Linked DNA regions of Homo sapiens: all the other regions are linked to region 3. The links come from fine-mapping of genetic effects on gene expression. A gene starts in region 3. Each other region holds a variant in brackets. All regions are shown on one strand. Distances are from middle to middle.

The links. PIP is the estimated chance that this variant, and not a neighbour inherited with it, causes the effect.
Region 1: its variant is fine-mapped to the expression of LRCH1 in whole blood (INTERVAL, PIP above 0.99).
Region 2: its variant is fine-mapped to the expression of LRCH1 in liver (GTEx, PIP above 0.99).
Region 4: its variant is fine-mapped to the expression of LRCH1 in whole blood (INTERVAL, PIP above 0.99). The same link has a PIP of 0.9 or more in blood mononuclear cells.
Region 5: its variant is fine-mapped to the expression of LRCH1 in whole blood (INTERVAL, PIP 0.95).

What each region holds. Positions count from the first base shown.
Region 1 is chr13:46,713,900-46,718,903 of GRCh38, forward strand. LRCH1 (leucine rich repeats and calponin homology domain containing 1) reads left to right here. Exons shown (of 20, transcript NM_001164211.2): 16 at 1,661-1,765. Among named protein-coding and RNA genes, the nearest start is that of ESD, 81 kb to the right of the region's middle. The variant C/T (reference allele first, on the strand shown) is at 2,383.
Region 2 is chr13:46,673,343-46,678,346 of GRCh38, forward strand. The region is part of intron 3 of LRCH1 (leucine rich repeats and calponin homology domain containing 1); the gene reads left to right. Among named protein-coding and RNA genes, the nearest start is that of ESD, 120 kb to the right of the region's middle. The variant A/G (reference allele first, on the strand shown) is at 2,383.
Region 3 is chr13:46,550,101-46,555,104 of GRCh38, forward strand. It overlaps LRCH1 (leucine rich repeats and calponin homology domain containing 1), which reads left to right and starts at 3,070. Exons shown (of 20, transcript NM_001164211.2): 1 at 3,070-3,603. The coding sequence starts at 3,297. RefSeq lists silencers at 3,014-3,203, 3,264-3,323 and enhancers at 3,527-4,227, 3,884-4,203.
Region 4 is chr13:46,686,026-46,691,029 of GRCh38, forward strand. LRCH1 (leucine rich repeats and calponin homology domain containing 1) reads left to right here. Exons shown (of 20, transcript NM_001164211.2): 5 at 1-16; 6 at 1,827-1,954; 7 at 3,108-3,171. Among named protein-coding and RNA genes, the nearest start is that of ESD, 110 kb to the right of the region's middle. The variant A/G (reference allele first, on the strand shown) is at 2,414.
Region 5 is chr13:46,698,706-46,703,709 of GRCh38, forward strand. LRCH1 (leucine rich repeats and calponin homology domain containing 1) reads left to right here. Exons shown (of 20, transcript NM_001164211.2): 10 at 631-698; 11 at 2,416-2,502. Among named protein-coding and RNA genes, the nearest start is that of ESD, 96 kb to the right of the region's middle. The variant C/T (reference allele first, on the strand shown) is at 2,898.

The sequences.
Region 1 (5,004 bases), 160 kb after region 3:
ACAGTCAGTTTTACACAGTTTAAAAGCATGGCATAATTGAGCAAATCAAAAGTTGAATGGATCTTCAGAGAATAATATTCTTTTGAATGTATAACTTGCAATTGTAGAATTATTTTGGTGACTTTTTTATTCTTTTTATAGAGTCCAAACTCAACTTATTACAGTTAGGGTTTACATTGTACTGGGGCTGTTAAACCATTTCACATTCTTTGTAGCAGTGAAAAATAAATGGAGCTTTTATTTTGAATAGCAGAAAACAAAGTTAATTTCCTTTCCAAGCTTCCAGCCTTTCTATAATGCTGACTAACCAATGTGGAAATTGTTCTTGTTGTTGAAAGCTCTATGGAGTTTGGTTGCTGTAAATAATGCTGTTTACCTTCAGGATCATCAAGTGACATGTGGGAACTTTAAAAACTTGCATTATGTATGGAAATTTATTTCATTTTATTTAATAATTTTAAAATAGTATATATGCTTAAGTGTATTTTTCACATTTTCTGGAAAGTAATATATACAGTAATCTTAACTGGAAAGCATATAGTTTTAAAAGAAACCACTTTTGATCGAGTAGCTTTAGAATGCTTAAAGCCAATTAATTTTTATTTTGAAAGTATGTGGATTTATGTGATTTCTGTGTTATAAATAAAAACAGACTGCTTAAATTAGCAAGTTCAAATAAGAACTTAGATTCTTAAAGTAGGCTGGCAGTTTCTTTCATTTCTTTCTGTGTTTTCCTCCCGAACAAAGACAACTGCACACACCCAAATATTTATATCTAGAACTATATCCATTTATTTTACCGGCCCTGCCTTATGATTGAATAAAAAATAATATAGATATTTCCTAAATATGAAATTGCCATATGGATATTTAGTGCAAAAATAAGAGTTGTTATCATTTCATAAGTGACCAACTCAGAAGTTCTTGAAATTGATTGATCTCTGTTGATTAATTGGATTTGTTGTTAAATAGACTGTACTAGTCTCCAACATTTTTTGTTTTTTGTTTTTTAACTGAGCAATATTGAAAACAGTATTTAGAGGTATGTCCAGGATTGAGAAAAGAATTAGCTAGATTCAGCTATCTATAAAGCATGCCAATAGACCTACAGGTGTCTTTAAAAAGAAATTTGACATTGCTTTGGAGAAAAAAAATCACTAATGGTAAATGATGATTCTATAATAGTTTTATTTCTAAATAATAGATATATTTACGCATATTAAGTTTTATTCTATGTCACCAATTTTTTTGTGTGTGAATCATATTTTGTTAGTTTTTTAGAAAGTCTTTGAGGAACGTATCTGGCAGGTCTTTTGCTTTTTATCTACCTAACCTATGGGTACTCTTTCTTTCCTCTGACCTGATTCATTAGTACTCTAAGTCTGTGGGCTTGCAGAACTGTTAAGATTAACAAATATGAACTGCATGCAAAGTGTATGATTGATGGGTACTAACACTCAGTTTTTATCATTCTTTTTATTCCATGCACCATCTTTCATTCTTCTCCTATATTGTGCATTTGAAATTAAACCCCATATAAATGAAATCCACTCTTCATTTCCATGCAAACCCTATGCCATTTGTGAAATGCTGCTGCCCCTTTGGTTTTTCCTGGTCCTTGTGCAACTGTACGCGGACTGGCTCTCTGGCTCCCCTGCAGACCCAGCCCTCATTCTTCCTCCTATCTCCTTCAACACACTTACACAGGCACAGACATGGGACAGCTCTAGCTACAGTGTTCCATCTGAAGGAGACAGTGACAATGGTAGGTGGCTTTGTACCTATTCTCCAATGTTCTCATTAATAAGCCAATGCGTATACTGAACATTCATCTCTGTGCAGCTGAAGATAGAGTATATTCACCTGCATGCTTGGTATGAGAAATAATGTGTAAGCCTGGAAAGTGAAGTCCAGAAAAGTGCACGTGGATTGTTCTCTAGCAGTTTGTCAAACTCCAGTTTAATTAACTTGACTATTCTGGATTTGGGGAAGGCATTATAATACTTTCTTTTCTCCCCTTTTCTGCTTGGGTTTTTTGGTTTGTTTGCTTGTTTACAAATATTTGGGGTTTGCACATTTGGATTTATCTCCGCTTGTTCCTGCATCTGAACTAAATGGTTTTAGAGTTTGATATTTTACTATTTATGCTTACTGTGTGAGATTTCTAAGGTAATTAAAATGTACCATGGCTGATCCTAGAGTATTGCATTGAAAATAATGTTAACGTGGAGAAATTTCTGAAAATGAAGATAAATCATTTGCCTTCTTTTTTCCAAATTATTGGCATATTTTGACTTTTGATGCCTTCTTGAGTATAGGTTCATCTTTTTGACATTCAAGGATAGTAACTTGGCCTGAGAATCAAATGTGTAAATAAAAAAT[C/T]GAGGACACTCAGCTAGAGTTCATGTGGGTATCTTTTAATTTTGAATCTTATATAGCCTAAGAGATTACAATAAAACATAATTATTTAGATCTGCACACCACCTATATCGTAATCTCCATTCTAGTCTAATTTCATCCTAGTCTCTGAAATATTCAAATTTTAAACATTTTACTTCAGAATACAAAGTGATTGCAGTCGAGTTAAGTGAAACAGAGAATGTGATTTATAGGGAAGAGTAGTGAGGTACAGGGTATAGCCACAATGCAAACACAATGGAAAGATACGTTTTCTGATAATATTTATCTTTTCATCTAAGTATGTTACATGTAATACCTGGAAAATATATGTTTAAGACACTTGCTGTGATTTCTGGTTAAAATTCAACCAAAAATGCTTCTACAATTTCCTTATGGAGAAAGACAATGTATACTTTGGCAGAGTAGTTATAAAAAGAATTTTTAATATTTCATAGATTTCTAAATTTTTAAACGGAAAATAAATAGGATTAAAAAACAACAGTTATTAAACAAATGGCCCTCCTTATACCATCCAGTTGTAAATTTTGGAAGTTGAAGAGGGCTAAATGGAAACTTTCTTGATAAACATTTTCTTTACTTAAGTTTTTTTTTTTCTAATGGAGGGGAGGCATTTTTGTTTTTCAGAAAGTATAGCTATTTATGGGCCTAATGTTGTTTAAAGGAAATAAAGCCTAGAATGAAAGATTTATGTGTGGTTTGGTATTTCCTTAGGAATGATATCTGAAACCAAAGGCCTTTTTTTTTTTAAAACTGGGAAACAATTAGTCTTCTTATGTAGCAGTAGAATTACTATCTTTATAGACGAACAGACTAAAACCAGAAAGGTGAGGTGAGCTGCCTGGGTCACACTGTGGGGTTGAGGTGGAGGTGAAGCTGCACCAGGGTTCCTAACTCTGGAATCATCTCTGCCGCATCTACATTCAGGCTGCTTTCATTTGATTAAAAATCCTTAAATTTCCACAGAAAATAATCATTGTGGAAATCTTTCTAAAAATAAAATAACCTTGCAATAGTTATTTTTTCTATGAGTAAAAATTCCAAGAATTCACATGCAGCTGTTATGCTGTACCACAATAATAATAAAGCCATCGTTTTCAATACTCACGGTTCAGTCGATCATGTCAGATGTTTGGAGGTTGTCATTTTTTCCTATTTGCAATTTGTCTCTACTATGCCCTGGGCAACAGAAAAATTTCTGTACCGAAATAGTCTTTACAAATATTTGTTTAGGTTCCCAGATCTGACTTTTATGTTTATCTTCATTCTCTTTGTTCTTAACTTTGACCTGTGATTGGAATACATTTTCTAATGTAATGCTATCTTTGTAAATAACCTTTATAAATAAACATTATCTTATTACCAGCTCAACCTAACATAATGTAACTTGACTTTTATTTATACATTTAGTTATTATTTTTGGTAAGGTTGTCCTTTTTTTACCTTGCTCACTGTCTTGCTTTATATAAAATTATCCTTTTTTTAAAATTCTTTCAAATATCTTATTCCCATTCTATCTCATTTTAAATTCCCCATTTCTCTAAAACTTATTCTTCAAACAGATTTTTTAAAATTGGCAACCTGGGTAGAAGGTCCTTGGGAGTTTGAGTTCTCAAAGTCCCCAAAGTTCTGCCCCATAAGGTGGATGAAGGAGGATGTGGACGTTTGTCTGTAGGTTTCTCTGGGCCCACCCCTGGAGCTGGATGGGACAGCTTTAACCTCCGTTTTTAACCTGATAGTTTAACTTCTGCTTTTCCCCCTGCTCTTGTGTCCTCTTACTGAATCTTTCCTCTTCCCTTCACTTTGAAGTTAAAAACCATTTCTATCTTCTTTGGGGTCATTTTTGCTCTTTCATTTGCAGTGAATTTGTAGGTGCTAATTTATACTTATTGAAAATTAATCTTTAAGTTATCACCAGAGAATGGATGAATGGACCAGTTTACATTAGTCTCTGAAATAACCATGTATCTTGTACCAGTTTACAGATATTTTCCTTAATTTTTTACAGTAATCTTGCACTATAGGTATTATTTTTCCCATTAGAGAAATGAAGAAACTGAGGATATAAGAGGCTTTTTAGTGGCTCTTAACTCTGGTTTTATATTAGAATCACCTGGGCGTTTTGTAAAACTATAGTCACTTAGGCCCCATAGTCAGAAATGCTAATTTATTTGGTGTAGCATTGAGTCTAAGCACTGGTCATTTGTTTTACTTCTTTTTATGGGATGTTATGTGGTGTTCAAGTAAGGTTGACAGTCACTGGGTTAAGTAAATTGTCTAAGACCATAGAGAAGAAATGTGAGCATTTTGAGGACACCGAATGTGTCCAGTTCAATTTTAGGCACCAGAAGGGAATGAATGAATCAGCTAGTGAGAGTTCTGATTCACAGTAGCCTGGATCTAAAGCTCGTGATATTTTTTCAAAGCCAAGATACTGCTGCCTTTGAGTTTGTATATCTTAAACATCATGTCCAGTTCAGGTTCTTAACTTCCAAGGAGAAGTTGAGAGCTACATTTTAAAACTTCATGTTTCCACAGAGAAGAAATCTCCTCTCATTCAGTTAAATTTAGGTATAAATATTTTTC
Region 2 (5,004 bases), 120 kb after region 3:
AGTGGTCATTATTTAACCACAAAGAGGGACTGGCCTTGCTTAAGGTCACGGTCTAAAAAAAAGATTATTTTCCATCCATTCTCACTTATCTTTCATCTTTTTGCTTAAAATAGTAGTGTTACTATAGGTAACCATATCATTATTTTTAGCTATCAATTGGAAAAAAAAATTCCCTGGAGGGCCAGAAGTAATTCTAGAATTGCCGTGGGAGGCTTCTGTTTTGTAGTCACGAAGTAACCAACTTATTATAAGATTTGGGAGCACCCCAAGCATTCAGAATACTTGAAGCCCTTTAGCGCCGAGACAGTGTCTCAGCTTATTAGGCTCTAAGCATTGTTTGTTAACTATTTTAGAAGAAATATTTTTAAATTGTTCACATTAGACTCAGAGTATTCCAAATGGAATTTTTTTTTTTTTTTTTTTTTTTTTTGAGACAGAGTCTTGCTCTGTCACCCAGGCTGGAGTGCAGCGGCTGTCGCCGAGGCTAGAGTGCAGCGGCACAATCTCTGCTCACTGCAGGCTCCGCCTCCCAGGTTCAAGCAATTCTCCTGCCTCAGCCTCCCAACTAGCTGGGACTACAGGCACGTACCACTGCACCCAGCTAACATTTTGTATTTTTAGTAGAGATGGGGTTTCACTGTGTTGGCCAGGCTGCTGTCGAACTCCTGACCTCAAGTGATCCACCCACCTTGGCCTCCCAAAGTGCTGGGATTACAGGCATGAGCCACCATGCTTGGTCAGAATTGTGAACTCTCTTTTTTTCTAAGTGTGAGTGAACATTCCAGAGTCAGCAATCCCTTAAAAAAATAAATAAATAAAATAAAAAAACTTTAGCCATCTACAACAAAGCAGTTGTCCTTTCTAATTTGTGAAAGGAATTGGAGTTGGAAAATGGTATCTTATCTTTCTAAATACATTAGAATTATATAAGATCTTTTTTTAATGCATTCCCATTCAGTCACTGCCTTGTCCTGCCATTTGAGACTGTGCAGGGAATGTCGAAAAGCAGTTGTTCCCCCTCCCATGAGGAAGCCACAAAGAGACACTACTGAGATGTCCTTTTCTTGACTCAACAAGAGCAGCCAGGTTGTATTTCCACATTGTTGCAGGTGCAGGAAAACTTATGGAATCTTAGCTCCATGGAGCTGGCCCCTCCAGGGTCATTTCAGATGGGAATGATCTGAAACTTTCTGACCTTCCTGGCTGCTCTGAATGACTTCTATGTGCTCTGTTGCCTCACTGCTGTAGCAGTATGGATATGTTGCTTTGTACGTCTATCTGCCTGTGCTTTCTATAAGGGGAAGAGATAAAGCATTCACATTTACTGAGCACCTGCTATATACCAGGCACTCTGCTAGGTATACATGTATTATTTCATATAGTCTTGAAAATAAGCTAGCAAGGTAGGTATCATGTTTATATTTTACAAATAAGTTTCAATTTTAGAATTACTTAGCCAAAGCCACAAGGATATGAAGAGGTAGAGCTGGAGTCAAAACCAGGTTTTTTAATCAGCGTCCTCACCACAATACAGCACTGTCTCTTCACCGAAACTGTAAGCCCCTCATGGAGTGGGGCTGTGATTTTTCTCCTTGGAGTTCCCTGGTTTAACTCCTAGTGGTTTTTCCATTAAAGTTGTGGGAGGAAAATGTTACAAAAAAAAAGGTTTGGTACAAATGGTCAATGTCTCACTAATGTTTTGTTACTGTGGAACCAAGAGTCAGGGAAGGGATCTGTAGACTTGTGTTGGCTAAATCTCATTTTACTCATTAAAACCTTGTTAACATATTGGAAACATGGTTCTTTTACTGCTAAACCATGCCTGATGGATGAGGTATATTTGTTAAGAGATGCTGTATAAATGCCATGTGTTATAATTAACAGGCAGCTGTAAAAACAAACACACTGTTAGAACACAATAAAATTGAGAGCCTTTTATGGGGCATTTGCCAAAGAAGAGTTTTCTCATTGGTTCCCTGTACATGGTGACATGTTGTGGTCCAGAGATGTTTTTTTTTCAATTCTGTCCTCTCTGAAGTCATGCAGTGTGTGAAAATCATGTCTTCTAGCTCTTACCTTCACATAAGAGAACACAGTATCTCTGATTTAAAACCTGCTTTTCTAATCAAAAATCTCACAAGGCCTGGCTCAAGTAACGACTTGTTGGAAGGTGCATTTCCTGGCCTTGATTGGATATGCTATTTTTTATTCTTTTTTCATGAAATGTTTGGTTGTGTGGAGAGTTTGGATTCAAAGATTGATTATTGAGCAGCTGCTGAGGAAAATCCCTTCTTCATTATTTGCTTGGGTAGCGTTCCAATCTCTGAGGGAGATAACAGCGGAGGCATAAATTCACGTGCTCGCCATGCTGTTTGTCCATTC[A/G]TTGTCTCTGGAGGCGCCTCCTAACCTCTGGTTTCTGTGGGATGATTGGAAACCCAGGGCTTGCGCAAGGCCCTCTGTGCTTCCATTTCTGCCTTTCTTCTGAAGAGCAGTGGGGTAGGCCGTGTGTTTGTAAACTTAGGAGAACTGTGCAACAGAGTTTTGCTCTGGAAAAAGACACTGGTGTTGAAAGGTGATAATTTGTCATCCCAGAGCTTTCTTGAGAAAGTTTCAAGTTTAAATGAACATATTTTCTTTTTAAGACAGCGAGTTCTGGCCGGGTGCGGTGGCTCATGCCTGTAATCCCAGCACTTTGGGAGGCCGAGGTCAGGAGTTCGAGACCAGCCTGACCAACATGGTGAAACCCTGTCTCTACTAAAAATACAAAAATTAGCCAGGCATGGTGGCATGCACCTGTAATCTCAGCTACACAGCAGGCTGAGGGAGGAGAATCGCTTGAACCTGGGAGGTGGAGGTTGCAGCAAGCCGAGATTGCGCCACCGCACTCCAGCCTGGGTGACAGAGACTCCGTCTCGGTGGGGTGGGGGGAAAGACAGCAAGTTCTGACCACAAGCATTGAGGGTTTTTGACTGTTAAGAAATCAAAATTGACATTTCCCGGTTAGTTACATACCTGTGTTTCAACCAAAATCATTTCATTATCTCTGATGTAGCAAATGGACTTTCCTCATATTGGAGGATAATTAGAATTATTTAATCCTTACCTGTTCTTTTGATAGAGACACAGAAAGGGTAAGACATTTACCTAAAGTTACACAGTGAGTCATACAAAATGCACTTCCACAAAAGGGCATGGCTACGTGATAGGAGGCTACTATTAGTAGCTTGCAGTTCCTGTCAGAACGTTTGCATTTTATTCAATTAAATAAAGAGCTAGATTCTTACAAAAATACATCTCAAGCAGTATTACCATAAACCTAAGTGTCAGAGCAAGGTCACGTGTACAAATACTACCTGCAGTTCCAGTGTGTGTCCTGGTCTTACTGGAATTATTCTGTAACCAAGATCATCTTGACACAGTATTTATATTGTTTTTCTTTTTTCTTTTTGTTTTGAGACAGGGTCTTACTGTGTCACTCAGGCTGGAATGCAGTGCCATGGTCACAGCTCACTGCAGCCTTGACCTCTCGGGCTCAAGCAATCCTCCCACCTTAGCCTCCCGAGTAGCTGAAACCACGGGTGCATGCCACCATGCCCGACTAATTTTTTAAGTCTTTTTGTAGAGTCAGGGTTTCCTAATGTTCTCTAGGCTGGTCTAAAACTCCAGAGCTCAAGCGATCTGCCCACCTTGGCCTTCCAAAGTGCTGGGAATATAGGCATGAAACATCGTGCCCGGCCTATGTTGGTTTTCACTAGACATCATTCCTTAAAAAAATACTTCTAGTCAGCCGGGCACGGTGGCTCACGCCTGTAATTCCAACACTTTGGGAGGCCAAAGCGGGTGGATCACCTGAGGTCAGGAGTTCGAGACCAGCCTGGCCAACATGGTGAAACCTCGTCTCTACTAAAAATACAAAAAAAAAAAAAAAAAAAAAAAGTTAGCCATGTGTGGTGGCACACACCTGTAATCTCAGCTACCTGGGAGACTGAGGCGGGAGAATCGCTTGAACCTGGGCGGCAGAGGTTTGCAGTGAGCCAAGATCGCGCCATCGCACTCCAATCTGGGCGACAGAGCGAGACAATGTCTCAAAACAAAACAAAACAAAAAAAACTTCTAGTCTCTTTTACCATATTGCTTTCTGAAAGTGAGTATAACCTAGTTTAATAATCCCTGAATTTATTCTCCGAATTTAAATCCTTGTTATTTTTGCATTCTGAAGGTCAGTTAGCAACGAGCACTTAGTAACAAAAATATATTAAACTCCAACATGGTTTTAATACTTCTAGAGACTCTTTTTATTGTGATGAGGAGAGAATCTTATTTCTAAAGTTTTTCTTTTGGTTACCTAAAAACATGATGACCAGTGGAAAGTAAGTATGTGTTAAGTCACAGTTCAAATTCTCTATTTTGTTTTTTATCTAAATGACAAAGTTGGACTGACTGGTCTATAAAAAACTTAAACTTGAGTATTTATATTACTATAATTAGATTCGTTTCTATCAAAAAGAATAAATTCAGTAAATATTTATAACATGCTCATGATTCTTTCTGATCTGCCTGTGTATTTGTGGTATTATAGTACTAACTATAGGGTGCTATGATTTCACTGAAGTTTGGAATCATTCTCTAAGACATAGCTTAGGGCTAATAGAAAATTCAGAAGGGATTCATTTGACTATTTTAATAAATAACTGAATATGGAATTTATAAGCTGATAAATTCTTACTAATTGCCGAAGTTGAGGCATTAGTGTTGTTTTTATTTACATTCATTTTCCTAAATCGTATCTTCTTTAAATCAGTCTGTAAAATTCATACCTTATCTTAGGCTGAATTTGAACAAAAGTGTTCTAGAGAACAAGGCCATTCTAGAAATATTGCTTTTACATTTTCAAAACAGGAGTATTTTATCCCCAAACACCTAGACTATTATCTCCTGTTTCTTTCTCCTTAACCCCCAGCTAATTCAGATAGTGACCCATGGGGTTTTATTTTTGTGATGAAT
Region 3 (5,004 bases):
TGAACATGGGAGGTGGAGGTTACAGTGAGACTCCATCTCAAAAAAAAAAAAAAAAAAAAAAAAGAAAAGAAGATTAGTTGATGTGAGCACAGCTTAAGAAAATGCTTGAAAGCAGGTGACTAGACTTATGTATGACTAACTTCCTTTTAAGAAAACCAAGGGTCTCAGCAAGTACAGTAGTTCCCAGAGTTTTTGATTTCAGAGATAAACAACATCAAAATAATTGGTAACTGACTTTAGTAACCTCCTTTTGTTATTTTTTGAAAAAGGATACTTAAAAAACACTACAATTTATTGTTACCATTGTTTTGGTTTTTTTTTTTCATCAGAAAAAAAAATAGTGAAGGCACAGCCTCACAATTATATATAATTTTTGAAATTAAATACATTCAGGTTCATGAAAAACTCAGGACATTGTCCTATTTTTTTTTCCTCATTTTATCAGGGTCATTTTTTCATCAACTAGCTGATTCACATAGAAAAATCCTGAAACACATATTATTTATCTTCAGAGAAATTCATGTTGATGTTACTAGTTGCATCAAATATCTCAGCCAGACAACATTATTTGTTGAATCTTCCAGGCAGCGGATTTTTTTAAAAGGGCCTGATTCCTGCCCTTAATAGCAAAAGGGTGCTGTTTTCAGAATAAGTAAACAGGGTATTAAACAAAAGAGAGATGTCCATCTTCTTGAAGAAATAGTGAAGAAGCAAGACAGCAAGGGGAAATGGCTTGTCGAGTTTCTTTAATATTTAGAAATAATCAAGATCATTTTCAAGGGTCAAGTACTCTCTCCCATTTTAAGAAAAACTCCTTCATTCAGGGAAATCATTTGAAACTTTAAAGATGTATCAACAAGTACCCCATAAATTTATACAAATAAAAAAGGACATATCAACAGGTGGCAAACCTGTTAAACACATGGTCTATTATGCAATACTTAATTGATTACTAATATTAATTGTGCACTCATTATATACAAAGTACTCCCCTCGATTCTGAGGCATGGGGAGAGAGTTGCAAAGATGAATAGGTCCCTATTTCATGGAATTTACAGTTTAGTAATCTGTAGATGGGTAAACAAACCACAATGAGTAGGTCAATCTAACAGAGGGACTGATCATTTGTTAAAAAGCAAATCGTGGGCTCATATGCAATCCATTATTTTCTTTAAAGAAGAATTAGTGGTCTTTTAAAAAAATATGTATGCTTCCTATGATGCATCACAACGACTCTTAGTCTGAACTAAATTTGCAGTCAGCCAGAAGATGTCCCAAATCATGTCCTGACTGCTGATCACACAGACTACCACCTGGTTTCAGCTGAAGATTCTTTTAATTGGATTTTTTTCTGTGTTTCTGTTTTTCACTGGATTTTGTTTTTCTCTGTTCCTCTCCCTGGAGGAAAGTGGAAATTTGGTTACTTTTTTGTGATGGAAGTATACTTTCATTTATTATTATTGTCGTTATTATTATGAATTTTGAAGCCGGACTTTTAAAAGCCTGGAAGGCTGCGGCGAATGGCATGTGAGAGGGGAGGTTTGCGGGAGGATACCAGCAGGTGGCGCGTGTCTCCTCCGGGCAGATTAGAATGCTTTGCTCAGGGCCAAGAATCCCGCAGGAATTAAGGGCAACTATCTGTGCAGTCAATTCAAGTGACACAGATCATGCCATACTTAAGTGCCGAGTCCATGAAGTCACCAGTTCCAGCCTGTTGTCTAGGCCATCAAACTTATGTATTACCACTTAAAAAACCAGCTCCCCTACTCCAAGGGTTGCATTACTTTCGTGCTTGACACCCCGACAACCCCGCACCCACCCCCCGACTCATTTTCCCCAAGCCAAGTCGCTCATAGGGGACAATCAAGCCTTAAGAATAGAGCAAAAATAAAGGCCCTGGAAAGTTGGACATGAAGCTTTAACTTCAGGAAAGGAATGGTATTCTATTAATCGTCCAGCTGGTCTGCCCTTAGGGTGTCAGATGTTCTCTGTCGCCCCTGGTGTGCCAGCATTGGCCTGGGTGCCACTGGGTGGCTGATGGCAGAATGTGAATTCACTTGCAAGCGGACATGTTCGTTTCCATGCCCCAAAGCGGGAAGAAGAAGGGCACAAGGAGACTTCGATGGTTCTTTCAGCTCAGACTCGAGCTGTGACTGATTTGCTGTTTGGGGTCACTGGCTTTCTAGCCTCTCCTGGCACCACCCAATTTCGGGGAGCAGCCAGCTCATCTTTCTCCTACGACAATGTCTTCTGTCCCCCATAAACACTGCCCTCATTTTGAGTTTTTCTTTCCTATGTCTGTAGCTTTCTTCTGCCGCTCAGCAAACACTCTGTCCCACTCGTATTCGTCCCTTGGCGCTGGCGTCTGGCCCAGGGGTACACTGTGAAGGAGGGCAACCCTAGATTCTGAGGGCCCTAGCTCGAATCTAGCGCCCCTCTAACTGCAGGGGTGACCTTAGATACATTTATTAACTTCCTCTGTAGACTCAGGGGAACAACTTTGGCACTCCTGGGGTCCCTGGATTAATGAGGTAACTTACGTAGACTCCCTAAACAAGCGTCTGGTTCATTGTAAGCGCCCAAATGCCAGGGGGCATCTGCAGGGATGACCCCATAGTGAATGAAAACTGCCTCTTGGGGATCTCTGGGTTAAACGGCCAGAATAAATCGCAGAATTGAGAGAACCCTCTCCTGCCCCAAACCTCACTGTACTGTAAATCCCATTCATTGCCTCCCGCCGTTTTATCCGTGTTCTCAGACCACCCCCCTATCCCCGCAACCTCCAGTCCCCTAAAGCCTCCTGGGCGGCAAAAGGACGCCCAGAGAGAGGTTCGGCGCCTCAGTTGCCCCGGAGCAGACGTCCAGCCCCGCCGTGTACCCGATTGCGGGGCGGATCGCGGCAAGGCGGCGGCGGCCGGCAGAATAGGCGCGGAGGAAGGCTCAGGCGGGGCAGACTGCGTGGGGGAAGGAGGAGGAGAGAGCAGACGGCGGAGGAGGGCAGAGCAGCCGGGGGGAGGGCGCAGGGGCGGGAGGAGACACATGCGCGCTGCCGCCGCCGCCGCCGCCGCCGCAGTCCTTAGCTTCCCGGGGACAGGAAACCTTCAAGACCGAGCTGCCACGGCCGCCTCCCCGCCCGCCCCCCATTCTACGCGCCTGCCCACACCCTCCTCCCCTCCTTCCAGCGCCTTTCGGTGGAGCACTGCGGCACTCAGCCCGAGCTGCCGTTTTCCCCTCGCGGGGAACGCTGTGACCCCCCCGCAGGAGCGGCGGGGCGGGGTGGGGGGGCCCGGGAGAAGATGGCGACGCCGGGAAGCGAACCCCAACCTTTCGTCCCGGCCCTTTCGGTAGCTACTCTGCACCCACTTCATCATCCCCACCACCACCACCACCACCATCAGCACCACGGAGGAACCGGCGCCCCCGGCGGGGCGGGTGGTGGCGGCGGTGGCAGCGGGGGCTTCAACCTGCCCTTGAACCGGGGTCTGGAGCGCGCGCTTGAGGAGGCGGCCAACTCCGGGGGGCTGAACCTGAGCGCCAGGAAATTGAAGGAATTTCCCCGTACCGCAGCCCCCGGGCACGACCTCTCGGACACGGTGCAGGCAGGTGAGTGAGGGCCGAGGGGCGGGCAGGGGTGTGGGTGCTGTCTGGGTGTCTGTCGTGCGTTCCCTAACGCGGTGGACAGTCGGAGATCTTGTCTTGCTGGGGGAGGGAGGGTCCATCGGCCCGTTGTCTCCCGAAGAAGGGACTCGCGTGGGCGCGGAAGAAGCGGGCCCTGGAGAGGGCACGGGGGCCCTGCCTGGTCCGGCGATGCAGTGCCAGGAGGGCAGGGGTGCGCCGGGCCTCTGCGCCTGAGAGCGAGGGGTCTCCGGCTCTCCACCCTGTGGCTGCCGCGCCAGGGAAGTAACCGCGGGGCTGGGACTTGCAGGCGCGCCGCGTGCGCGCAGTGTAAGTGGGAGGTTTCAGGCGGCTGTGTCGGCTTCCTGGGCCCCGCGCAGGGCTGGGAACTCCAGCGCGGACAGCGGCGTCGGCGCCTCCAACCAGTTCAAGCCGTCTTTGCATCGAGGCGTAGCCCATCCTGGTGGGGAAACCCAGACAAAGGTGGCACGCCCTCGGCCGAGCCAGGGGCATCGGCGCAGTGCCGCGAGCCCCCTCGGCGACATCGCCGAGCGATCGGGCAACTCGGTGCCGCCTGTGAGGTGCCCAAGTTTCCTCTCCCTGCGCTTGTGCGGGAAAAGAGCCGCCGGGCTTGTAGTGAATCCCAGTCGGCTGCCGCTTCGGAAGCGATCGGCCCTCTTCCTTCCGTGCCTTTTGCTCACCGCCCACACAGTTTGGGTCCTACCACCGAGGCTACCTGGTTCTCAGTTACCCAACCGTTGCGGGGGCCCCAGGAAAGGACGGCGTGGCATATTAAAGGCAAAGTAATTAACGTGAGCCTGTTTTCCTGTGTGAGCCCGGCAAGTTGTAACTCGCGCCAATAAGCAGCATAACTTTTTCAAGTTACGTCATGTGTTACATACTTCTAAAACGTCTGCTTTCTCTTTGGTAGTTGGAGTTCCAGGAGCGGGATCTATAAACAGGAAGGAGGGTGGTGGAATAGGATTGGGGCCTTAGGGTCTATACAGAACTGACTTGGTTTCCGGCCATCCGGTTCCGCTCCCTGGGGGAGGGTTTGTGTCATAGCAAGCGCCCAACATTTCCCAGGGCAGTGGGTGCTCCGTTTTGGAGCCGCTGCCCAGACCTCTTGGCTGTCATCGCCTCATGGCCCAGGGTCAGACCCCCTGGGTCTTGGATGGGTTGACTCTCATCACAGGAGCACCCAGTTTAATCTTGTAGTGGGCAAGGGAGCAGGCAGTGGGTTTTTGGAGGCTAGGTTTCCAGTGTCTTTTCCCCCTTTTAATTCAATAAACATTTATCTAGAGCCTTAATGAATATTTAGATACAGTTCTGAGTTCACTGGAGGCAAAGATGGCTCTCCAGGGTCATTAAACTTTGTAATTTGGATTT
Region 4 (5,004 bases), 140 kb after region 3:
GTCTCCTCCAGCACAGGTGAGGGGTCTTGCAGCAAAGCCAATGCCCCATGGGATGTGCTGTTATAGGAGCCAAGGGAAAATTTCCCCTTCACCCTCTGAAAGTTTGCTGAAAATCACTAATCACTGGCAAGCGGCAGATTAATTGGAGAAAAGGCATCAAAATTTATTAACATGTACGTGGAAGCCTCCAGAGTGAAGACCCAAAGATACAGGGGAAATTGTCCATTTTTATGCTTACAAAGTATGGACAGCCATGTAGAAATATGATTGGACAAAAAGAGTATGATCTCATGTTAATAGACTGAGTGAGGAAACCCAGCAGGGCCTGTTTGTCTGGATTCTTCTTGGGCTCTCTGAGGATCATTCCTTCCTTCTGGGCGTGGGGCAGGACCCTCTTTGCGATGGGGGGTCTTATGGCCTACTGTCAAACAAGAGAAGTCAGATCATTTCTTTATGGCCAGTTTTTACACAGAAAGGCCGAGGGAAAGTTCCAGTAATATTTTGAGGTTTTAAAGGGGTTTTGGTTTCTATGACCAGCTTTGGGGAAGATTCAAATTTGTAAGGCTCCCTTCCTTGGGAGAATGGGACCGAGGGGCAGGAGGGCAGGAGAGGTCAGAGAAAAACTTTTGCTTCTGAGACCTTCATTTTGGGGTATTGTTTTCTGATTCCCAATGCTATCAATCATGCTTAAGCAACTCTCCAAAGGCCAGTTTTCTGATTCTCTGCTGAAGAGAATAATACTGAATAAAACTTGATTATAAACAGTCACAGTGAACCCTTGAGTGAATGTGAGAAACAATAAATTGTCTTCCATTGCATCAAATCCATTCACCAGCACTTGGCTCACTATGCTAATCACTCCAACTCCAGAATTAAATGTCTTATTATTTATCATTTTATTTGAATTTGTTTCATGGAGTATATTGATTTTTTTTTTTTTTTTTTTTTTTTGAGACAGAGTCTCGCTCTGTCGCCCAGGCTGGAGTGCAGAGGTGTGATCTTGGCTTACTGCAGCCTCTGCCTCCCAGGATCAAGTGATTCTCCTGCCTCAGCCTCCTGAGTAGCTGGGACTACAGGCGCCTGCCACCACACCTGGATAGTTTTTGTATTTTTAGTAGAGACGAGATTTCACCATGTTGGCCAGGCTGCTCTCTAATTCCTGACCCCCAGGGATCTGCCCGCCTTGGCCTCCCAAAATACTGGTATTACAGGCGTGAGCCACTGCTCCCAACCATATATTCCTTATTTGAATGTTAGCTGGAAAATGGAATTTAAACACCTTAAAACATGGTTATTGATTATTTAGAGACAAGTCTCCAGCTCAAATGTTAAACTGCATGAGAGAAAAATGAAGTGCTATGCTTTCAGATGCTTAACCATGTAAATATTTTGAAGTTTATTTTCTTTTTAAATAATTTAACAGCTTCTTAAATCTACAATTATTTTTAGGCTCTGAATTGCTTTCTATCAGCTCGAAAATAATTGTGCTTTTCTCATCTTTTGTAACTGGAATTTCACCAGGCTGGTCATCTGAGTTTATATTTTTTATACTATATATACTTGAATACATTTTTGTTAGAGTTTTATAGTTTAATGCAAGAAAAAATGGGAAATTGCTTAAGCATGATTTTCTATTCAAAGTAGAATTTGGAGGGAATGATTCCCAAAATTCTTACATGTTTTGGAAAGGACGGATTTAGTGTACATTGGTAGGGTGTTACTTAAAATGAAACTGGGAAAATTGAAATATACAGAGTAAGGATTTGATACTTACATTTTGTTTTGTCATTGAAAAATGAATATGATTGCTATTAATTTCTTTGTAGATTTGCACAAAGGGCAAAGTTCACATATTTAAGTATCTGAGCATACAAGCATGCCAGATTAAGACAGCTGACTCCCTTTATCTCCACACCATGGAGAGGCCACATTTACACCAGCACGTGGAAGATGGGTGAGTCATGCCCTCATTCAAAGCCCCAGTTTAAAATTTGCCTAGGCCAAGGCCCTCCAGGTAGCTGACTTCAAAATCTGTTTGTTTTAAGTCACCATGGTATCTGCAGAAAACAAAGCAAAACAGAACAATTTGGTTTAATCACCTAATTTGTATTTAAAACAAGAAGTTGAGAAACTATTGGGATATGAAAGAAAAAACTGCTGCTATTGAGAATATTTTGGTATATCTCAAATATCATCTGTCTCCTAATCAATAATCAGTTCTTCCTGAGTAAATATGTGCATACTTATAAATAAGATCTAGAATACAAATGTGAATATTTTTTACTTATCAAAATAACTATATTGAGCCCAGACATGCCTTTTTAGCAATTATTAATGTTGAATATGCCTCCAGAACAATGTTAAGAAAAAAATGAAGGCTTTATTTTTGGTCTTTTAAAAATGCAGTATGTGT[A/G]GTTTTGTCGCCACTTCCTGTTTCAAATGGAAAAGTTAGAACCCTTTCACACATCCTAGAGCTTCTTGTGGCATAAATCAAGCCTTGAGCTTCCAAAAAACAACATTCTCACACTGAACACAGTTATAGAAATGCAGGTTCTTTTTAAGAAGTCTTCACTGCAGAAATCTTTTCCTTCACTTTTTGCTACATAAGTAAATTTAAAATTTTGGACTACTCTAATGTTACTTTTATATAATGCTTAAAATATGTACACTGTTTTATGTACTTAATCCCTGGATAAAAATTTACAGAATTATTGAAAGTAACCACATTTCATAACATAAGGGGTAAAAGCAGTTATGTGGTTTATTAATTTTTTATATGCTAGATGCAGTAAAATAAGAACATTGGTAACTATTTTTAAGAAACACCTTGACATCTAAGAGCAAGCCACTTGATTAGAGCATAAATCCATGAAACCCCGAACACAAAGAATTTTATCTTATCCTGTGTTTAGACTGTGCTACTGTCTGATTTTCATTAGGTCCATGTCTTAATATTCTTTAATACTAGACTGATTTGTTGCCTTATGGTAATAATAAAAATTTGCGTAGCAAAATTATTATTAGAATATAAATTGATGTTTCTTGGTGTGAACTTTGTGATTTTAATCTTTTTTAAATGAATTCAATATTGATGGCATCTATCTCAGCAAGAAGGATTCTGATTCGGGAGTTGGAAGTGATAATGGAGATAAGCGATTATCTGCCACCGAGGTAAAGTTAGTGATCAGATTCTTTTCCTTCTGTACTTCTAGACATATCTACCAGTGTTCATTGAACTCCTTTCTGTTAAAGGGCATCGATTCATTTGTATATTCATGTGATATTCGTAAAAGTGATTTGTATATTCATGTGATTTGAAATCCTCGAAGTGTTATATAAATATTAGCTGTTGTTACTTATTCTGCATCTTTAATATCTTTAATATTTTGTAAATGCCTCAAGAGTGGAGTCTGTATCTTCTCCTCTCCTACACATTATCTAAAATATTATTGAGTGCTCAATAAATATTACAAAATGGCTAAGTAGTACGCAAGTGCCCGTGAAGCACTTTTATACATACGCTTATTTTTCAGTAATAGAGTAATTTAGAAAAACATTGTTATACATATGCGTAAATGTTAAGGAATCAACTGTACATTTTATTTTAATAGTTGATCCACAGGAAATGCATTTATGAGTAGCTATAGTTTTTATAACAATGTTTGTTTTCCTCAGACTCTTAGATTGTGTTCTGTTCTGTTCTGTTCAGTTAATTGGATACAAGTTTGGTTACTTGCAAGCTAACAGGCCTCACACATTAGAACTTCCTATAGTGGTTATAAATCATGCTTTGATAACTGATTTATTATCTCACATGTAGTCTATTAGAGTCCCCAAAATCTAACACTAATGTATCATTAAATGGAGCTTCTTGGCCTCAGGGATCTAGAAAGGAGTGGTAGGAAAAGTATCAGGTGCTCTTCTTTTTTTGAGGGAAGTTACTTTCTGTAGTTACTAAGTTAACATTATAATACTGTGAAATTGCAGTTAATAGGCCAGTCACCCCATCAAAGAAACTCACATTTTTTTCTATGTATGACTCCAGGAAAAAAACCTTTCTCCAATTCTCCTCAAGTCGTTGAATTTTAATAGGTAGCTAAGGTATTTGAATTTATTTTTCACAAAATACTCTATATAGCAGTATATTAAAAAGTGGGATTCTTTATCTTTAAAAATCCTTCTAATATAGAGCATTTTGAAAAGAAGAAGAGTTAGTAGGCAGAGAAGGCCAGTGTCAATAAAAGAAAATAACCCATAGGAAGGCACATGAATAGTTTACCGTGCTTCAGTGGGAGAGAGGGGATACTAAACACATTGCTTTAGTTGCATTTTAATTCATCCTCTTCAACTCCTAAGTCCTCGCAAATGGACCATTGTTTCAGAAATTACTCACCCTAAGTATATTTTCTGTTAAATTAAACAGACTCTGCTTTATCTCTCTTCTAAGGCTAATTAAACTCATTAATAAAACATTACATAAAGAACTTCATTATCCTTTTGTTGTCACTTAAGCATAAGTAGGATGCTAATATCATTCTAAAAGGAGCCCAAGGATTTATTCTGTGCCTTTTAATTAGATGCATATCTTTGGAATTTTGCTAAATTTTTAAGATGAGAGGTGGGTAGAAAGAGAAGGGAATACAGAAAAGATTATATTCAACAGAATGAAATGCACACATCTTGCCTTTGGCCTTTCCTTGTCTTATATTACAGCCTCCTTTCCTAAGTACACCTCCAAGAAATTTATTTTTTAGAGTGATAAGTGTTCCAAATTATCTTACATAGCTTCCTATTTTCACTTGGTTTGGCAAAGATTTTACCATCTATGATCAGGTGATCTTACTTCCCATTTAGATGACATTGTGGGGTTCAGGGATCACACCTCATTCTTTTTCTTTGGCTGCTGCCATTGATTGATTTAGCATTTGTCACTGAGAGATTAAAAACATCTTTTTATCAAGATAAACAGGAAAGTGTGGAGCTCTATGAATATTTGTTGAATGA
Region 5 (5,004 bases), 150 kb after region 3:
AATAGGAAATCCAGTAAAGCTTTAAATTTCTGATGATAAGTTAACAGATGCTGTGGTCTTGGGCCACATTTTTTTAAATTTAAAAATGTTTAATTATGGGAAAATACTTACAAAATGTACACCTTAGCCATTTTTTAAATGTACATGTAGTTCAGAGTGTTTTAACTACATTTACGTTGTGCAGCCTATCTCCAGAACTCTTCTCACTTGCAAAACTGACCCTGTGTACCCTTTAAATAACAACTCCCTCGTTCCTTCCCGGCAGCCCCTGGCAGCAAGCATTCTGCTTTCTGTCTGGATGAATTTGATTACTGTAGACACCTCATATAAGTGTAATCAGTACAGTATTTGTATTTTTGTGACTGGCTTATTGCACGTAGCATAATGTCCTCCAGGTTTATCTGTGTGTATGGCATGCATGAGAATTTCCCCCTTTCTAAGGCTGAGTAATATTCTAGTGCATGTACATACCAGATTTGTTTATCTGTCCCTCCATAGATGGCTGTTTGGCTTGTTTCCAGCTTTTGGCTATTGTGAATAACGCTGTTATAAACATGGGCTGGGCAGGTTTTGGCTCCTGACTACTGAGTAGCCAATGGTTTTCAGGAACCCTGTGTGTTTTGTCCACAGGCAAGGGCAGAAGACTGTGAAGAGCTGTTACGGATAGAAGAGGATGTGCACTGGCAAACTGAGGGCATGTGAGTGCCGAGGCCTTGGTTACAAGCCATCATCACTCAAATCCACTTTGCAAGCAGTCTGGCAGTTCTGTTGTGATAGAATTTTGACCTGCTTTTCTGTGGGCAAGCTGATATTCTTACAGACAATATTGATAAGAAGTTGCCAGTTTTTCTCTGTCTGATGCTTTTTGTCGTGGTATTGGGCAGTACAAACCTCTTACTTGGCCTTGAGTCTTATTTGTTTTGAGGTTGCGGGTAGTAATGTGATTTCAGAGAATTAGCTAGAATTTCTAGATTGGAGGTTCTACCATCCATACAATTGCCTGAAGAAGCCAACAGCTGGGCCTGAAGTGATCTGTAGCGCTGATCTCCTTCTTTACCCCAAGTCATCCCCTTCAAGATCTGAGAACACCGTAGACTTCTGGTCCCAAGACTTCTAACTGCCAGAGCTACCATTTATTCAACATCATGTGCCAGGCATTGTCCTAAATACTTGACAGGCCATAACTCATTTCATCTTTACAACACTCCTAACAGATAAGTTCTGTTCTTGTCCCGCATTTCACAGATGACGAAACTGAGGCACAGAGAGATTGATTATCTTGCCGCAAGGTCACAGAGGGCCAGCATTTGAACCCAAGGAATCTTGTACCAGACAGATAATCCTTCTACTCTATTGTGTATAAATATTTATTTAGCAAGATTTACAGGGGAGGGGGTGTGTGATCCCATCAGACAATGAATCATGTCCAGGGGAATTGAGTTTGGACTGTGTGACATAGAGTATAGTTTTTGTTCCCAGGATTTTTATTTCTATAATCTGGGAGGCAGGTGTTGACTCTCCATCATACCTTGCAGGGTTTTTCTTCTTAGTGAGGATTTATCCCATTGTTAAAACTTTTCTCCTTACAGAAAGTCATTGGCTTACATTCTATGGTGGGAAGGGCTTGCTGTGATCAAATCTCTCTTGCCCTTTAAAAACGTTGGAAAGTTCCTCTCTGGTCACGGTCTGTATTACCAGCTACTCACTGGATATGCTGCTGAGAGCCACGGAGGCCTAGCTTGATTAAACAATCAGAGAATCATAGGGAAAGAGGCACTTGTTTTTAAACTATATAACGGTTTGGAAACTCCATTCTCAATCTCATACCTAGTGCTTTCAACCCTGGCTGTAAAGGATTATCTGTAGAGCTTTATAAAATGCTGAACTCCTAGTCAGACCCACTTGGACATATAGGGCCTGGCATGTTTTTTAAGCTCCACAGATGATTTTGCTGCATCTAGAGTTTGGACTGAGAACCACTGTCCCACACTGAAACCCTATATGCATGAAAGTAATAAAACTGGTTGAACGGGAGTTGGAAGGCCCAGAAGTAGTACAGACTCAGCCAGGTGATCCCCTCCATGCAGCCCCCTAGAACTCAGTAAAGCACAACGGTGAAAGCCTCTCATCTAGGCCATTGCCTGACTGTGCACAGGGGCAGTTAGGGGTGCACAGGCATGAAAATCTTATGTGAGCTGCTTTACAGCAGAGCTGGGCTTCCCCTACTCGGGCTCTTCCCACCGTGCTCTGCCATCCCACCCCACAAGGTACAAACACATTTTCACCATAACACTGAATCTGTCGAAATCATTTTCATATGTTAGATGGATTTTTGTAAGTTTGCTTTTTAAGAAATTAGATGATATTCATGTTGTATTGATCGTTTTCATTCTTATGCTTGGTTTCACGTTACAGAATAAGTTCATCCAAAGATCAGGACATGGATATAGCAATGATCGAGCAGCTGAGAGAAGCAGTAGATTTGCTGCAAGATCCCAATGGGTGTGTATGTCTCCTTGGTCCAGGTTTCATGTGTAAATAATGCATACTAATGTATGGAGTACATTGTCTAAATTCCTAAAATACCTACACAGACGATTTTGGCCCAGTCCAGCTACTAACAAAGAAAAGTCATGTTTATTGCCTGTTTTCCCAAGATGCAAAAGTAAAAGAGTCAAACTTCTGGAGGGAGTGAGATCAATTTCCCCTTTCACCACCCTTTATTGAGTTCATTCACCCCTCATGAAGTTCATATGGGAGTTTTTGGTAAAATTCTTAGAAAACAAAAATATGGTAAAAGTGCATGTTTTATATTGCTTAAAGTTTAAACCCCTGATTTATAAAAAATATAAAGAAAATGTTTTCCAAAAAGGAAAGAATTGGTATATCAAGTAGTA[C/T]TGTATTTATATGGGGTAGTGCCAAATATATGTTAACTGAAGAATATATTTCTAAAGATTTGGGATACAGGATAATTTTAAAATCTGAATTTGCCTTGATCGATAATAGGCACTACATTCAGTGGATATGTGGATAATATTTTTCGATTTCTTAACTAATGGTAATGGAATTCCCATGGACAAAATATTTTTCAGCTAAACAATAGCAGGTATCATGTATCGGGTAATAACTACATGATCTCTAGAGAACTAGAGGACTTGGTAAACTGATGTGGTCTTATAATATGATGAACACGGGAATCACACGCAGCAATCCTAGCTGGGTTCTGCAAATTTATGAAAAGCGTAGTTAGTGTATCCCAGAATGCTGATGAGAATATACCACCTATGATGTCTGGCCCTGAAAGAATAGTGGCGGATCAGTTTAGTACAGCTGGAAGTCTTTTGCAATTGATTTGAAAAACATTTCAATTCTGCAGACATTAATTGAGTGCTTGGAGTATGGGAAGATCTGCAGTGTGCACCTTGGGGGATGTAAAGATGGACAAGACACAGCTCTTGCTTTCTGAGAATTTAGAATAGATAGAGATTGCCTTGAGAAGTTATAAGTGTAACTGGGCCAGGCGCGGTGGCTCACACCTGTGATCCCAGCACTTTGGAAGGCCAAGGCAGGCAGATCACTTGAGGCCAGGAGTTCGAGACCAGCCTGGCCAACATGGTGAAACCCTGTCTGTACTAATAATACAAAAATTAGCTGGGCATAGTGCCATGCGCCTGTAATCCCAGCTACTCAGGAGGCTGAGGCAGGAGAATCGCTTGAGCCCAGGAGACAGAGGTTGCAGCGAGCCGAGATCGTGCCACCACACTCCAGCCTGGGTGACAGAGTGAAACTGTGTCTCAAAAAAATAATAATAAAACAAATAAATAAATAAATAACTGTAATTGATTCAAGTGCTTCAAGTGGAGGTAAAAAGGATAGACTCGAGCAAGTGCCCAACCCCAGGAAAAGGGGAGATGGGTGGACTGGTCTTCCTGAAGGATAGGATAATGGCCTGGACCTTTAATGACTGCCAATTTCAAGAAAAAGAGAAATTCTGGATTGAATGAAAGGCTTAGGTAAAGGCATGAAGGTCAGAATGAATGGAGCCAGGTTGGGAAAATCTCAGGCAGAACAGAGGCTCTCCATCCTAGTGTGCTTCAGTATCACTTGTAGAACTTTTTCAGAACAGATACCAGGCACTTCCTTTGGGGACTGGAGTCAGCCAGTGCTTCTGATGTGCAGCCAGGACTGCGAATCACCAGAGACAGTGTAGAATGATGCAGGCGATGGCTTTGGATGTTGTTAAGGAGCTGAGATTTTAATTTATATTTAGAGGGAGGCAATGATGGTGTTTAAACATGATTATTCATGTTGTTAATTCTCCCTTATGTTTGGCTCGTGGCATAGGCACCTAATCAAGGTATGTTCAAAGAGTTGAATTCTACATCCCAAGCCGGGGCAGTTAGTGAAAGGGCAGGAAACAGGACAGGAGAGCCTGTATGTGTGTTTACGTGTATCCATGCATGTGTATGGTTGTTCATACATGTATGTTAGTACATGTAGGCATGTGCACCCGTGTACATGTATTCATTATAACGAATCAGGAAGTAGTGTGGCTTGTAGAAAGAACAGACTTTGAATTAGCTAGAAACTTTTTAAACATAGCTGCACCATCAGTTAACTTGGGTAAGTTGTATGACTTCTCTGCATCCCATTTCTTCATCTATAAGAGGGGGTGACAAGTACCTACCTTTTAGGGTTATGAGGATTTGAAATAATACATAAACTGCCGGTGGAGAAGTAAATTGGCAAAACCATTCTAGAAGTAACTTAGTATGTAACCAAGTCTAGAAACATATAAAACTTCGGAGTGAAATCTAAGAACTTATCCTAAGAGACAAGAAGACGTGAACAATTTGGGGAATTTGGGGTAGAGAATGAGGGGTAGGTATTTTTAATAGCAAATATTTGGAAAAAGAAATTATCTAACAATTTGGGGATACTTTAAGTATATTATACTCTTTGATAAGACAGAATGTGATGTGGCCAATATAATGTTTTTTAAAG